2 linked regions of the Homo sapiens genome follow. The protein of the gene in region 1 interacts with the protein of each later gene in a pairwise test. Each region holds a gene or a part of one and is shown on either strand. Other genes may lie near its edges.

Region 1 (7,028 bases):
CTGTGGAATTGTTGAGGCTTAGCTGCTTTGGCCAGGGGTTAGGATTGAGGTGAAGATTACAAAGCAGGGAACCTAAGGAAATTGCGAAAGGAAAAAGAATCCAAACAGCAAGGGACAGGGCTGGCAGTTGGAGGGTGTCAGGGAGGAAATTTGGATATGTAGAGGATGCAGCATCACCCCCAAGGGGTGAAAAATCCTGGCTAGTAGGATGATTTGTAGCCTTTCAAAGATCAACCCTACCAGACAAAATCTTGTTCCTTAGTATTTGATTTCTCTCATGGGGTTCTTGGGTCTCAGTGTGTGTGCAGGATCAGTGCTCCGGAGCCGGCCAGTAGATGGCTGTGAACGGAGGACTTTCTCTTTATCGGTTGCTCCATCTCCAAGTCATGTTGCAACAGGTGGCCAGCGTGTGCCTATTGGCTGCCATTAGCTGCCTTCCTGTGGTGATCACAAAGCCAAGCATTAATGGTCTTCCCTTTTTAGAGAGTGCTTCTGAGTCATGTTTTCCCTTGTCTGCTTCAGTGTGAACAGGGTCTGGTGGGTGTGACTAGCATTAGCTATGTTGTATAATTTTTGCCACGCTTTGAGCAGGGTTTGTGTTTTCCTTGTTCAGGCTGTGAGAAGACATTTATCACAGTGAGTGCCCTGTTTTCCCATAACCGAGCCCACTTCAGGGAACAAGAGCTCTTTTCCTGCTCCTTTCCTGGGTGCAGCAAGCAGTATGATAAAGCCTGTCGGCTGAAAATTCACCTGCGGAGCCATACAGGTAATGAGCTAGGGAACGCACAGCATTTGGACCCAAGATTTGTCTTCATCGTAGCTGTTGGAGTTGTAAATTTTATGCTGTATAATTTTTTCTTTTATAAGGTGAAAGACCATTTATTTGTGACTCTGACAGCTGTGGCTGGACCTTCACCAGCATGTCCAAACTTCTAAGGCACAGAAGGTAATCCTTACATTTTGGTTTGCATTATCAGGTTTGAAAATGAGTGGTTTGTCAGCAGCAGAAACCAATGAATGAAATATCTGTAGACATTTTTTAAGTTGTTAAAAAAGGAGCTCAGTGTTGATGATTTGGAAAATTCAGAAAACTGTAAAAAGAAAATTGCTCAGAATCTCATCACCTGAAGTCAGTTTTTTCTGTGTATACTTTTTTTAAAAAAAGCTAAATTGGCATACTCTGTTCTTAAAAAAAAAACAATTCCAGGTTTTTTTTTTAACTTAACATTGTAGAATAAGCTTTCTTCATGTAATTACAAGTTTTCATGGTGGTAATGACAACCCTGGAGACTGTGTCCAGGTGACACTCAGCACTTTACATGTGTGTCTTCTACCTTCCCAACAACCTCAAAGCTAATGTTCTTATTCTCCCTGTTTTACAGTGAGACTCGGAGAGATTCAGTGGTTTTTCTGTACTTGCACAGCTGGGCTCTGAGGATTTAATATAAAAATGTCACTTAGGAAAAGACACAGTCTTTACAAGTTGGCTTAAGAGAGTCCTTTTGGCATTGCAGCTGATGCTCTGTGCACATTTCTCACGACCGTCTGTCGCTCGGAAAGCTTGTTGATCATTGGGGTTTCTAAACAATAGAAACACCTTCATCAATACATTTGGGACTCCACTGTTCTTAGATTAGCTTATATTAGATTGAAGTAGCATTAATTGTTTGATGTGTGACTCTGGGGTCAGCTTAGTCATTAAAGTAGAATTTTTATGGGGTAGCTAAATTGCAAATCTGCTCACATGGATTAAAGACAGAATTAAGATTTTCCGAAATGTACTGATCATTTTTGTAAATGCAAAGTTTGTGTTTTGGTATGTTTTGTAGAATTTTAAAGAATTATGGTGAGTTGTGTGAGGAATCACAGCTCCTTTATTTTTCTGTCTGGCAGGAAACATGACGATGACCGGAGGTTTACCTGCCCTGTCGAGGGCTGTGGGAAATCATTCACCAGAGCAGAGCATCTGAAAGGCCACAGCATAACCCACCTAGGCACAAAGCCGTTCGAGTGTCCTGTGGAAGGTAGATTTTAAAACATTGCTTTGAGCAGTAAACTAAGTGCAATGCCAACATTTATCCTGTTAAGTTTCCGTTGTTTAAAGGTAAATGTTAGCTGCTTAAAGACTGACTCAATATAAGTTGCAGCATTATGTTTACTTACCTCATTGAGTTAATTGTACTATTTTGGGAGCAGTGACTTGAGAATCAGACGCAGTTTGACTCATGGCCCTGATCCTCATTAGATCTGTGGCTCTAGTTAAGTTACCTGTTTAATTTGGTGGTCGTGAGGATTAGGTGAAATGTGGAAAATGCCTGTTTATCCATCTGGCATGGAGCTCGGACTCAGTAAATGGTAGGTACTTTTGAGATCACGTTTGAATTGTCACTCCAATCATTTTGTAATTGGAGAGCAGTAAAGCTAGACTGACTTTTTCTTTTTTTGTTTAATTTTTGAGACAGTCTTGCTCTGTCACCCAGGCTGGATGCAATGGTGTGATCTTGGCTCATTGCAACCTCTGCCTCCCAGGTTTAAGTGATTCTTATGCCTCAGCCTTCTGAGTAGCTGGGACTACAGGCGTATGCCACCACGCTTGGCTGATTTTTATGCTTTTAGTAGAGACAGGGTTTCACCATGTTGGCCAGGATGGTCTCAAACTCCTGACGTCAAGTGATCCACCCACTTTGGCCTCCCAAAGTGCTGGGATTACAGGTGTGAGCCACCACGCCCAACCTGACTTTTTAAAAGGTATAGTAGAGTGGTTTTTTCCTTTAAAACACTGAAGGCTCAGTTCATTTGCCAGAAATTGGCTGCGTGACCTGTGCGTGACTTGTGCGTGCTGGCCCTACTCTAGTTCTGCAGGTGCACTGGGAGGCAGTGAGCCAGGACACGTCGGGTGGTCATGGATTCAAAGTCTGGCTCTACCGCTCCCTAAAGTGGTGGCCTCAGTCAAGCTGCTTCTCTGGGCCTTGGTTTCCTTACCTGGAAGAGAGAATAATAAAGACCCATTTAAAGCTGAGCCTAGCTCTTAGAACATAATGAACATATATACAAGTGGTGTAACTGAGAAACAGTTCCTCCTTCCGTCAGAGTTTCAGCTGGAGGTGCAGACAGGGGAACAGGTAACATGTAGGGTGCTGCAGGGGCGCAGAGAGTTTCCCCAGACCGGGGTGAGAACGGCCTCGCGGTCAGCTGAAGAAGAGGGGAGAGCACCAGACACGTGCGTGTGGGTGTTGGAGGCGGAGTGGCCTGGGAGAGCCTCTCAGGGCCAGGAGTGGCAGGCTTGAGTGCTTGGGTGAGCGTATGATGTCATCATGTTTGAGTTGTGGCTTAGCCTGGCTTCAGGATTGAAAGCAGCCAGGGGTGTGGGGAGGTGGGATGGCCTGGACGGGGGCCTTAACAGTGGGAAAAGAGAAAGGGGCATCAATAGCAGAGGTGGGAGTTAGAAGTCACAGTATATGGTGATGGATTTGGATTTTAGTTGATGTCAGTGTGTCAGCTGAGTGGATTTGGAGGAAGCAGAGTTTGGTTTGGACATGTTGTGTTTTTGGTACCCTTGTGCGTCTAATGCGCAGAGGGCAGGGGATGTGCCACTGGTGCTGGGGAGAGCAGGCCAGGCAGGGAGCGAAGCAGACAGCACCCGAATCATCATTTAAGCCACAAAAGTGGATGAAATTCTCAAAGAAGAGTATAAATGGAGGAGAGTCAGGGTAGTGTAGTTGATCAAAAGCCTGAATTCTGGAGTCAGACTGCCTGGATTCGAGTCCTAAGTTTGCCACGTAAGTAGGTCTGGGGCCTCGGACAAACACTTGAAGCTCTCTGTGCCTCTTCCTTATCTGTAAAGTGAATAAAACCTCCCAGGGTTGTTGAGAAGGCTGGATTGGTTACTAAGTTTAGCGCATATGGAAAACATCAGTATATATGTCAGTTACTGTCGTTGTTGTGATTGCTGTTAGATTTTCTTAAAAAGGACCTAGGACAGAGCCCTGGGGCTGCCCCAGATTCCGGTGGAGTGGCTGGGACGGGTACTGGCAGGACCAGCAACAGCACAGTGGGGGTGGTGCTGAGGTGAGTGGGGAATGTGTGGAAGTGGGGGTCACCTGGAGTGCTAGGGTGAGCCAGGACCAGGGAACACATGCCTCGGTGCCACCTGCGGGGTTGTCTTGGTGTGCTGATGGATGAGGTTCCGTGGGTCACTCAGGCAGAGTCCTGCTCTGGTGCCCTGAGAGGTGGCCTGAGTGGGAGATGGGGATGGTTTGTGCTGACACTTCTGCCAGAGGTGACTGGGGAAAGGGGAAAGGTGGGAGTTGGCCGTGGAGGATAGGGCATTTGTTTCTGTAGAGCTCTGTTTCTTCCAGCAAGTCTAGGTGTTGTGCTGGGAGAGAAACTGGGCACTCCCCACGTGGTGTATGGGCAGCACGTGGAGATGGAGTTGGAGCTGGTGGGAGGAGCCCAGAACCTCTTCTCAGCTGGACTGAGAGTTGATCATTCTTGGGGTTGGGCAATAGTTGGGGCTGATGACACCATTTTTTCCACTTTGGTAGGTGTTTGAACTGTTCTGTAATAAAAAGTAGAAGGCAAAACTACCTTTTTTTGTAGTAACAGGAGGAGGAGGAAAGGACAAGGCCACAGACCAGAAGTATGTCTGAGGGCAGGTGTTGGGTGGCCTCGTTGCGGCCTCGGGGCTATGTGTGCTGGGGCCTGTGTCTCGTGTTGCCGAGCCTTGTGCTTGCCTGGCCGTCCATGTGAGCGCCTCACTGTCCTCTGAATGCAGCTTTGCAGACAGGTCTGTCAGTGATGGCTGCTTCTGCCTCTCCCTGGTTGCAGCTTGGATTTGTAAAGAATGGAAACAGATCTCAATATACTGGCAGAATTTGGAAAAGCCAGCAGTTAGTACACTTGGAGAAATGATTACATTCCTGGTTGTCGCAGGAAATACAAACCAAAATGAAATATATTTTTTGCCTATGGAATTAGCAAGTACTTTAAAAAATGGAAACCCAGTGCTGGCAAGAGTGTGCAAGGGTCCTGTTGTAGCGTGGCCCTGCCATCAAGAAGGCATTTGACAGAAGATGTGCTCAGAGCCTCTGCTCTGTGACCTGTCTCTAGAAATCCGTGCTCAGGACCCCCAGCTGGGAAAGGGGGTTCCAGGGTACCCTGTGTACCATGGTGAGCAGGGCATGCAGAGGAAACTGCGCGCTTGCAGGGCAGTCCTGGGCCGTCGGACTGTCTCCTTTGTTTCCCAGATGGTTTTTGACGAGCCTGACCTGGAAACGAGTTTGCAGCTGTATTAGAAAATGAAAAATGTAGTTGAAAACTATATTCACAGGCATCCAAGGCCCTTACTCATCTGGCCGTATCCTATCTTCATAGCCTCTTTCCTTAAAATATCCCTCCTCCAGGCGCTGGGCTCTGGCAGTACCACCCCACCGTCTTAAGAAGGTGCCGCGAGTGCGTCGTTGCTCGCACCACTTGCTTAGGCCCGTGCAGAGGCTCTGTAGGCAGGTATGGCTTTATTGGGCCCTCAGCACCCCTGTGAGGTAGGTGTCACTCCCGTTTCACAGAACAGAAAAAGGAGACCCGCAAAAGATAAATAATTTGTCTAAGGCCACACTGCTGGTAAGAGGCTGAACTGGAACCCAGGCTGGGGTGCCTGCACTGCTGCCCTTCATGCCCCCATGCCTTGGCTGGGCAGCTCCTGCGGCAGGAGCACCATCTGCTCTGCTGCAGGGTGGCCCAGTCACCTCGAGGGCTGCATACTCCTGAGACCGCTTTTCTGCCTTCTCGGGAGGTGTGTGGTTTCCTCTGCTGCTTGCATGTTTCAGTGTTGGCACTGACTTCCTTCTGCCCTTTGTTGCAGCAACTGGCTGTTCTATTTGCCCCTACCAGGTCATAGGCCTCTGACCGCCAAGAGCTCCACGTCTCCTTCCTGTGTCCATATGGGGCAGAGCTCCAGCGTAGTAGAAAGCCAGGGCACGGAGGGGAGGTGATTGTAACTTTGAATGTGTCTTGTTTTTCCTCTGATGCCTGTGTGCAGATCAGAGACATAAGTGGACTGGGAGTGTAAGCAAGGAGTTGCCAGCTCTGGGCTCCAGGACACCTGCTCAGTCTCCCTGGGCATCCATTGTCTCAGTGGGAAAGTGAAAGGACTGGCTTTGGTGATCTGTCAAGATAGTTTCCAGCTCTAAATGTCATCCTAGGATTACATTTTTTATGATAATAGCTTAATCGAGATGACTAGAATAAATTGTTTTCAACTGAATATTTAAGCAGTTAATACTTAATTTGACTTAATCTTCCCAACATCTCCATGTAGTGGGTGAAGAAACAGGCACAGAGGTTGCTTAGGCATAGCTGAGGTAGGACTTCAAATCTCCCTACGGGTTTCACTGTATCTCTTGCTTTTTAAAAACAGTTTGCTTTTGACTTGAATTGCTTGTGATGCTACTTCTAGAGATATTTGGTCTCTGTCCTTGCCAGTAGCCAGGGTGCAAAATGCAGGTCTGGTGGTTCTGATCTGATGGGGAAGTGTCACTTGTTCCTGGTTCCTTGGTGATCCTTGGGTTTCACTCTCATTACTCTTTTTGTTCCAGGATGTTGCGCGAGGTTCTCCGCTCGTAGCAGTCTGTACATTCACTCTAAGAAACACGTGCAGGATGTGGGTGCTCCGAAAAGCCGTTGCCCAGTTTCTACCTGCAACAGACTCTTCACCTCCAAGCACAGCATGAAGGCGCACATGGTCAGACAGCACAGCCGGCGCCAAGGTCTGCACTTTCCACGGCCCCCATGGGGAGCTGCTTCCCTGTGAGAAACGGGAACAGTGCCAGTGCCGTCTGTTCCTTCTTCACCTCTTGGAAGGCGTCAGGCAGTGGGGTTGTGGGCGTGGCTGCCAAGCCAAGTGGCCTCTTTTGCACTCTCTGCCACTTTCTTGCCTTTGACCCTCTAATCCCTCCCATGTCTTTTGTTTTTTGAGACAGGGTCCCTCTCTGTCACCCTGACTGGAGTGCAGTGGTGTGATCATGGCTCAC
Region 2 (7,028 bases), on another chromosome or scaffold:
CTGGGTGACAGAGAGCAAGACTCTGTCTCAAAATAACTAACTAAATAAATAAAAATAAAGATGGGTCTCAGGGTTCCACAGGGGCTGCCATGACCCATGACCCATGACTGGAGGAGGGGGCTTCTTAGGTCAGGTACTCTGATGTAATTCAAAGAATTACAGAGGCCTCATCCAGTTCATTCAGACCTCACAATGAAGCTGCAGAAGTGGCCATTTGATCAGGGAGAACTGTCGGAGCGTACAAGACGGTGAACTGAATGAACGCTGAGGTTTGACTGCTTATTCCTTGATGAACCCTGTGAGTCTTTGCTTCCCTGTGCCTTGGTCTGAACGTGGGAGAGAAAGAGGTAGCCTAAGCCAGCTGCACGGGGGGAGAGTGAACAAGCCCATTAAGTTATCAGTGGGGCGCAGTGGAAACGGGGGATGTGACAGCAGGGAAACAGAAGTGGCATCTCTCTGGGCCCCTCCTACCTGCACCAGGCCTCTTTCTGAAACATGAGTTTCTCTGGGATGTGTGTTTGCTGTTGGGGAGCTGGAGCGAGTCTGTGTGGGTTGGAACTGTTTTCACCTCTGAATATGTCCTTATTTTGTGGTCATGCAGTTTTGGATTGAGATTGTGTGAGACTTCAAAGGAAACCCCAAAGCTCGCAGGAGAGAATATTGAAGAAAAGCGCATTGTATGTAGTATGGTTTGGCTTTTTTCTTCCAGCTGTAAAATTTGGCCGAATGTCAAAAAAGCAGAGAGACAGCTTGTATGCAGAAGTACAGAAACACCGGATGCAGCAGCAGCAGCGCGACCACCAGCAGCAGCCTGGAGAGGCTGAGCCGCTGACGCCCACCTACAACATCTCGGCCAACGGGCTGACGGAACTTCACGACGACCTCAGTAACTACATTGACGGGCACACCCCTGAGGGGAGTAAGGCAGACTCCGCCGTCAGCAGCTTCTACCTGGACATACAGCCTTCCCCAGACCAGTCAGGTCTTGATATCAATGGAATCAAACCAGAACCAATATGTGACTACACACCAGCATCAGGCTTCTTTCCCTACTGTTCGTTCACCAACGGCGAGACTTCCCCAACTGTGTCCATGGCAGAATTAGGTAATGGCATGCATGCTTCTCCTGGGATGCTCTATTCATGCCCTTTGAAGTAAAAGGGGTATGTCTGACTTTCCTCTAATGAGTTCTGCTAAATGATGCAATTCACCTTTACCATTTGGGCCACTTAATTTTCTGCCCTGCCCCCTTGCTTTTGACCCTCTGCTGTTTCCCATGGTTTATCCAATACATGCATTGACCTCTCAGCATTAGAAATGGGGCAAAACCAACGGAAGCAGTCTTTGAATTCTGCAGAAAACTGTAAGTTCAGGAAATGGCTACATTAACTTCATTAGTGGTTTACTTTAGTTATATTCCAAGGATTGCTTTATACCTAAGGTGACAAAAAAAAAAATGGCAGTCCACAAACTGAACTTGGCCCACAGACATATTTTTTTGCCCAGGGCAGAGTTTTAAAATTTTTGAATCAGTTGCTAATATTTAAATTTGGATAATTATACCCAAAAGTTCAGCTTTTTTAGCTTCTTGTGGGAGGGGAAAAAATGATCTATTTACACTGAGCCAACATTTGTGAATGTCAACAGCCAACTGGCAACAGCCAGGGGATTACACCTTTCAATGGGCCCACCTGACTCCCGCCATTTATATCATATGCACAGCCCCTGTAGGCATCTCATTTTTGCAACTCTGATATATAGTATAAATGTTCAACAGAAATCAGCTTCTTTACTTACCAAAATGTTCTGATGATGGATATTGGTGACAAAATTGATGTAATTCATATAAGGCTCACCATGCAAAAGACAAAAAACTGTCCTTTTCTTATTGCTGGAACATTACTGCTTCTTGGGAGATGTGACCTAGAAATGTTGATAACACAGACAATGGGCAACTTTCCATTTCGAGGAAGTTGTGTTAACATCCGCTGCTATATTTAATCGATTTTTAAGTACAGCACTATTATTAGAAAAACTTTGATAAGAACCTTTGTAGTTTTTAAATTTGATCTGCTCCTCCTGGTGGTTCCTCACACAAGGTTATAATCCTTTGGGATATGTCAATTAGTTGCTGTGGAGATGACTAAGTTAATACAAGGAGAGAATGAAGACTTCAGACGGAAAAGAAACAGCAGGTTCAGACTTGAGCACAGAAATCCTCAGTTCACAGAAATAATGGCTGTGTTCTTTAGACGGTTTCTCTACCTCTGCACCCCATAAAACATCTTTTAAGTGAAAATTTATATTTCCAGTAAAATCTTTCTCCAAATAGAACAAATTGAATGTTCTTTACGGTTTTTACACAAGCATCTCTTTATGGGTCTAAATTTAAATCCTCAAGAGCAGGGACATTTTAAGCCTGGTCTTTAACCACTGAACAGCATTAAAAGGTGTATTGCAGCTCTTTTGATTAACAGAGAAACCTCTGAACTAGAAGCCAAGCTGAGCAGAGGTAGGTTTGATTTTTTTTTTTTTTTCTTGAACTAGAACAAAAACCTTCCATTTTTGTCATGAAATCTTGGTTGGCTGAGCCTTAAGCAGAACTGTAATGAAAGTACAATTTTCAGATATGAATAAGGATTTGATTGAAAGCTGACATGATACCATGAAAAATGACCTGACTCACTTTAGGTTTGCCTCCACCTTACCATAAATACTAGTGACTCTGTCCTGTTTGCTTGTCAAATATTCAATCCTGAAATAAATCCATAGGCCTTAGGCAAAGCGTGCCCTTGAACATGGCACTTTGGCTAAAAAATGCACTCATACCGAAGTGGGGCCAGAAATGGCTGAGCCGATTCCCTGAGGCTCCCGGACAAGTCAGCTTCCTCTTCCATGGTCTCACTTTCCAGTGCAGTCTGGGAGCCCTGCCCCCTCATGCTTGCTCTATGTGCTTTTAAATTAGGGATTTTTCACAGGTGTTGTGGTATTTACCAAGATAAATTAAATGAGATCATCACTAGGAGAATTCCCAAACCCAAAACTAAACTAGCATTTATCTGGAAAGTATATAATTGGGCTCTAATTCTCTTATCCCATTTATACATGCAAAGTGTTTCAGGGAGCTAAGAGTATCATGAAAGTGGCCCAAGTCTTGTTGCTGCTTCTCCAAAGCTACTTAAATTTCCCTGGTATTTCTTTTGGGGCTTAAAGCCTGCTATCTCTTTAACTAAGACTCTTGACTTCATTTTAGGCTAAACTTTGTCATCAGATTTTAAACAAGTGAAACCAATTGTATAATAGGAAAATAAATTATAAACCAACACATCCTAAGTCCAATTCTCTCTTTCAAGTGTAGTATGCACAACCTATTACTTTTAGTGAAAAATATGACTTCATCCTTGGCTAGGAAATTTTGCCCTTGGTGTACAATTAGTACCTGAATTAGACATTCCAGATAAACGACCTAGGTTTTAAGTGCAAATTAGGTTTGTTACTATAATTGATATCTAAAGCTTTGCGCAGGAGAAACAGCTGATATACTGGGCAAAGCATGAGACAAGAAATCCGCTTATATGGGTTGTGGTCCTGGCATTAATATAAGTTATACAACCCAGTATACACCACGTAACATCTGCGAGCTGTAGTTTCTCTACTCCTAGAATATAAAGGTCTGTGTCTGAATCATAGCTCTGCTACTTGCCAGCTGTGACACCTTGAAGAAGTCACTTCACTGTGGTTCAGTTTCCTCCTCTGTAAAATGGAGATAATACTAGTACCTTTCTCTTGGGGTTGTTATAAGGATTAAGTGAGAAAACATACATATTCAGGATAGACACAAATTATGTGGGACTGGCATATAGTGAATGCTATATGTGTTAACTGCTATCATAATTATTAATGTCATTATTATTTGTTAAACAAGGACAGTTTGGACCAGATGCTATCTAAAGTTCCTTCCCACTATGAAAATCTGTGACTAACTCAGAAGCGAGGACTTCCCATCTGAAGTATCGAGGCGCTGGCTGTATTGCTGAAGCAGTCATGGTTGGGGCACATGACTTGCCCCAGTCACAAAGTGAGGTAGACTATAGATTATCTGCTGAGCTCAGACAGAAGCCAGGTCTCCTAACTCCTAGCCCAAGGTATTTCACTATTCCAGACTTTATCTGAGAGACCACGCTTAAATTCTCGAATTTTATTCAGCCTGACCATACTCGCCTTTGCTGAAATGGAGATTTAAAAATAGCAAAGTGTCTAAAATCTTACACTTGCCAAATCGACTATGAATTGGAATGAAAGGCTGTTGGTGAGCAGATGGTGTGAATGCAACCACTGCCCTCTACTGGTATGTCAGGTACACTGCATGATTTGTTGTCTCACTTTTTATTGGCTGTTTTAAATAGGTAGGGATAAGTGGCCACAGTTTCTTAAGACAAAGTGAAACCACAAGATGCTAAGTATCTTATTAACTAGAAATGAAACATAACCTGGAAGGAAATGATATGAGCCTCTTCTCATCCTTCACTCCACAGCATCCCCCCCTACTTCCCTGCGAAGACTCTTCATCTTCATCATTTTTTTATCGGCAAAAATTGGTTTACATTCTAGAAACGACCTTATATAGTGAGAGTTCTTTCCAAAAGAGGTAGTTCACTACCTTATTTATGTATTTTCTTGTTTCTTACTCCCCATTATTTTTGTCTTTACTCACCTATTCTCCAGCGTCATTGATTCTAAGACATGTAATTTACTGGCTTCTCTCTCTCACTCTCAGTTTCTCATTCTTTCCTTTACATTTGTTCTTTTATTTGTGTTTTATTTTTTATGTTATTTATTCATGCTGTTTTAGTGTCTATGTGTTGCCAAGTAGGGCCATTCAGGTTTATTATGTTTCAGTGTCTCTAAGGAGATTCTGGTTTCCAGCTCCATTTAGGTGAACCTGCTCTGTTTTCACACAAACAAGTCTGCTTCTGTTTGACAAAAGCAGTAACAAATTTCCAAACAAAAAGATATTCTCCCTAGTGTTGCCAAGTTTGCATTCAGCACCGTTCTTTTAAAATGACTTGCCTATTCTATACTCAAAACCCTAGGGAGAGGGATCATTTTTTGATATGGTTTTATATTCATGGGATTTTGTCAATTCTTTTAAAAAATACTTCTTTAATCATCCTTCCCTTCCAGAACAATTATTACCAAGCTGCTCCAAATTGTTAGTTCCTGGCATCTAGATTCTAGCAGCCTTCTATGTGGTCCTCCTGCCTGAGCTTCTCTGTGCTCCAATACACCAAGCACAAAACTGCTTGTTCCATTTCCCCAGATATAATTTTCTTTTTTTTTTTTTAAGAGGGAGTCTCGCTCTATTGCCCAGGCTGGAGTGCAGTGGTGTGATCTCGGCTCACTGCAACCTCCAGCTTTCAGGTTCAAGCGATTCTCCTGCTTCAGCCTCCCAAGTAGCTGGGATTACAAGCACCCGCCACCACGCCCAGCTAATTTTTGTATTTTCAGTAGAGACAGGGTTTCATGATGTTGGCCAGGCTGGTCTCGAACTCTTGACCTCAGGTGATCCACCTGCCTCAGCCTCTCAAGTAGCTGGGATCACAGACAGCCAACACCACGCCAATTTTTTTTTGTATTTTTAATAGAGACAGGGTTTCACCATGTTGGCCAGGCTGGTCTTGAACTCCTGACCTCAAGTGGTCTGCCCAGCTCAGCCTCCCAAAGTGCTGGGATTACAGGCGTGAGCCACCACACCCAGCCAATCTCTTCCTTTTCTGACAGCTTCAATTACTTTTTTCTTTCTCTTCTTCTGTAATTCAACTTTATACCTTATTATCTAGACTTGAATTGTCCTTCCAGTGTGTTCATACGTGTTCACCAGATTACAAGCTCCTAGAGAAAACTTCTTTGGCCTCTAGGTCTTTCATATCTTCAAACTCCTTATGCTCAAGTATAATAATAACTAATATTCTGTAGCACATTCTAAGTAATCCTCCCCATTCTAAGGGCTCAACTCTTTTAATTCTCATGGCAGCCCTGTGAAATAGGTACCATTTCCCTCATTTTACAAATGAGGAAACCAAGCACAAAGAGGTTAAATAACATACCCGAGATCACACAGCTAGTAAGCAGCAGAGCTGAGATACAGACTCAAATGGTCTAGCTCCAGAGTATGTGGCTTCACAACTACACTATGCATAGCCACATGGTAGGCCCTCAGTAATGCTTGTTCTGCAATTTGCAGGAAAAACAAAAGAAATACCTAGTTGTCACCATAAAAGAATATCATTTTCTAGTTTTTCAAGAATAAGAATAATCCTTCCCAGGTCAATGTTATGTGGCAGATGTGTCTTCATAAAAATGCCAAGAAGAAGCACCACGTCAATCATTTCCTATGTCTATCTAGGTCAATATTTTTTCATTCCTAGACATTGGTATAAAGGCACAGAACAAGGGCAAAGTCAGGAGGGTCTTTGAAGTCAGCAGGTCTTATCTTCAAATGCTGGCTTTGCAAAGTCCCTGTCCTCCTTCACGTTCCCAAATACAAAACAGTTCCAAATTACTTGTTTAAATGTGTAAAGACAGTCAAAACTCGCACAGCACATTGTTTTCTACTTGTTATTTCTTAAAGCAAATATTAAATCACCAATTATTCAAAGAACTTCGCTTTTCGTGTTTGTGATCTCCCGTTTTCTCCTTAGAACACCTTGCACAGAATATATCTAAATCGCATCTGGAAACCTGCCAATACTTGAGAGAAGAGCTCCAGCAGATAACGTGGCAGACCTTTTTACAGGAAGAAATTGAGAACTATCAAAACAAGGTATGATCTGAGGAATTTTTCCTCCTAGGATTGAGGCAATATTGGGAAGGGTGTTGGTATAGGAAAGTTGGTCAAGAGTTCACACAGACTAAAGAATGAATGTCATCAGGTTTCTGTTTAAATATCTTTTTTCTGAAGCTACTAATGTACTTGAGGCTTTGCCATTTAACTCAGATGCAAAATTTCAGCAATAGCAAATAATTTC

Evidence for each region. Proteins that work in one complex are often made in the same cells at the same time.
Region 2: the proteins of ZXDC (region 1) and RORA interact in a two-hybrid assay, tested with the Homo sapiens proteins (one study listed by BioGRID).

What each region holds. Positions count from the first base shown.
Region 1 is NC_000003.12:126,465,891-126,472,918, reverse strand, and holds part of ZXDC (zinc finger protein ZXDC), read left to right. Parts: intron 1-613; coding exon 614-766; intron 767-867; coding exon 868-946; intron 947-1,893; coding exon 1,894-2,024; intron 2,025-6,593; coding exon 6,594-6,764; intron 6,765-7,028. UniProt on the Homo sapiens protein: Cooperates with CIITA to promote transcription of MHC class I and MHC class II genes.
Region 2 is NC_000015.10:60,505,303-60,512,330, reverse strand, and holds part of RORA (nuclear receptor ROR-alpha), read left to right. Parts: intron 1-230; exon of another isoform or gene 231-298; intron 299-709; coding exon 710-1,105; intron 1,106-1,797; exon of another isoform or gene 1,798-1,923; intron 1,924-6,701; coding exon 6,702-6,823; intron 6,824-7,028. UniProt on the Homo sapiens protein: Nuclear receptor that binds DNA as a monomer to ROR response elements (RORE) containing a single core motif half-site 5'-AGGTCA-3' preceded by a short A-T-rich sequence.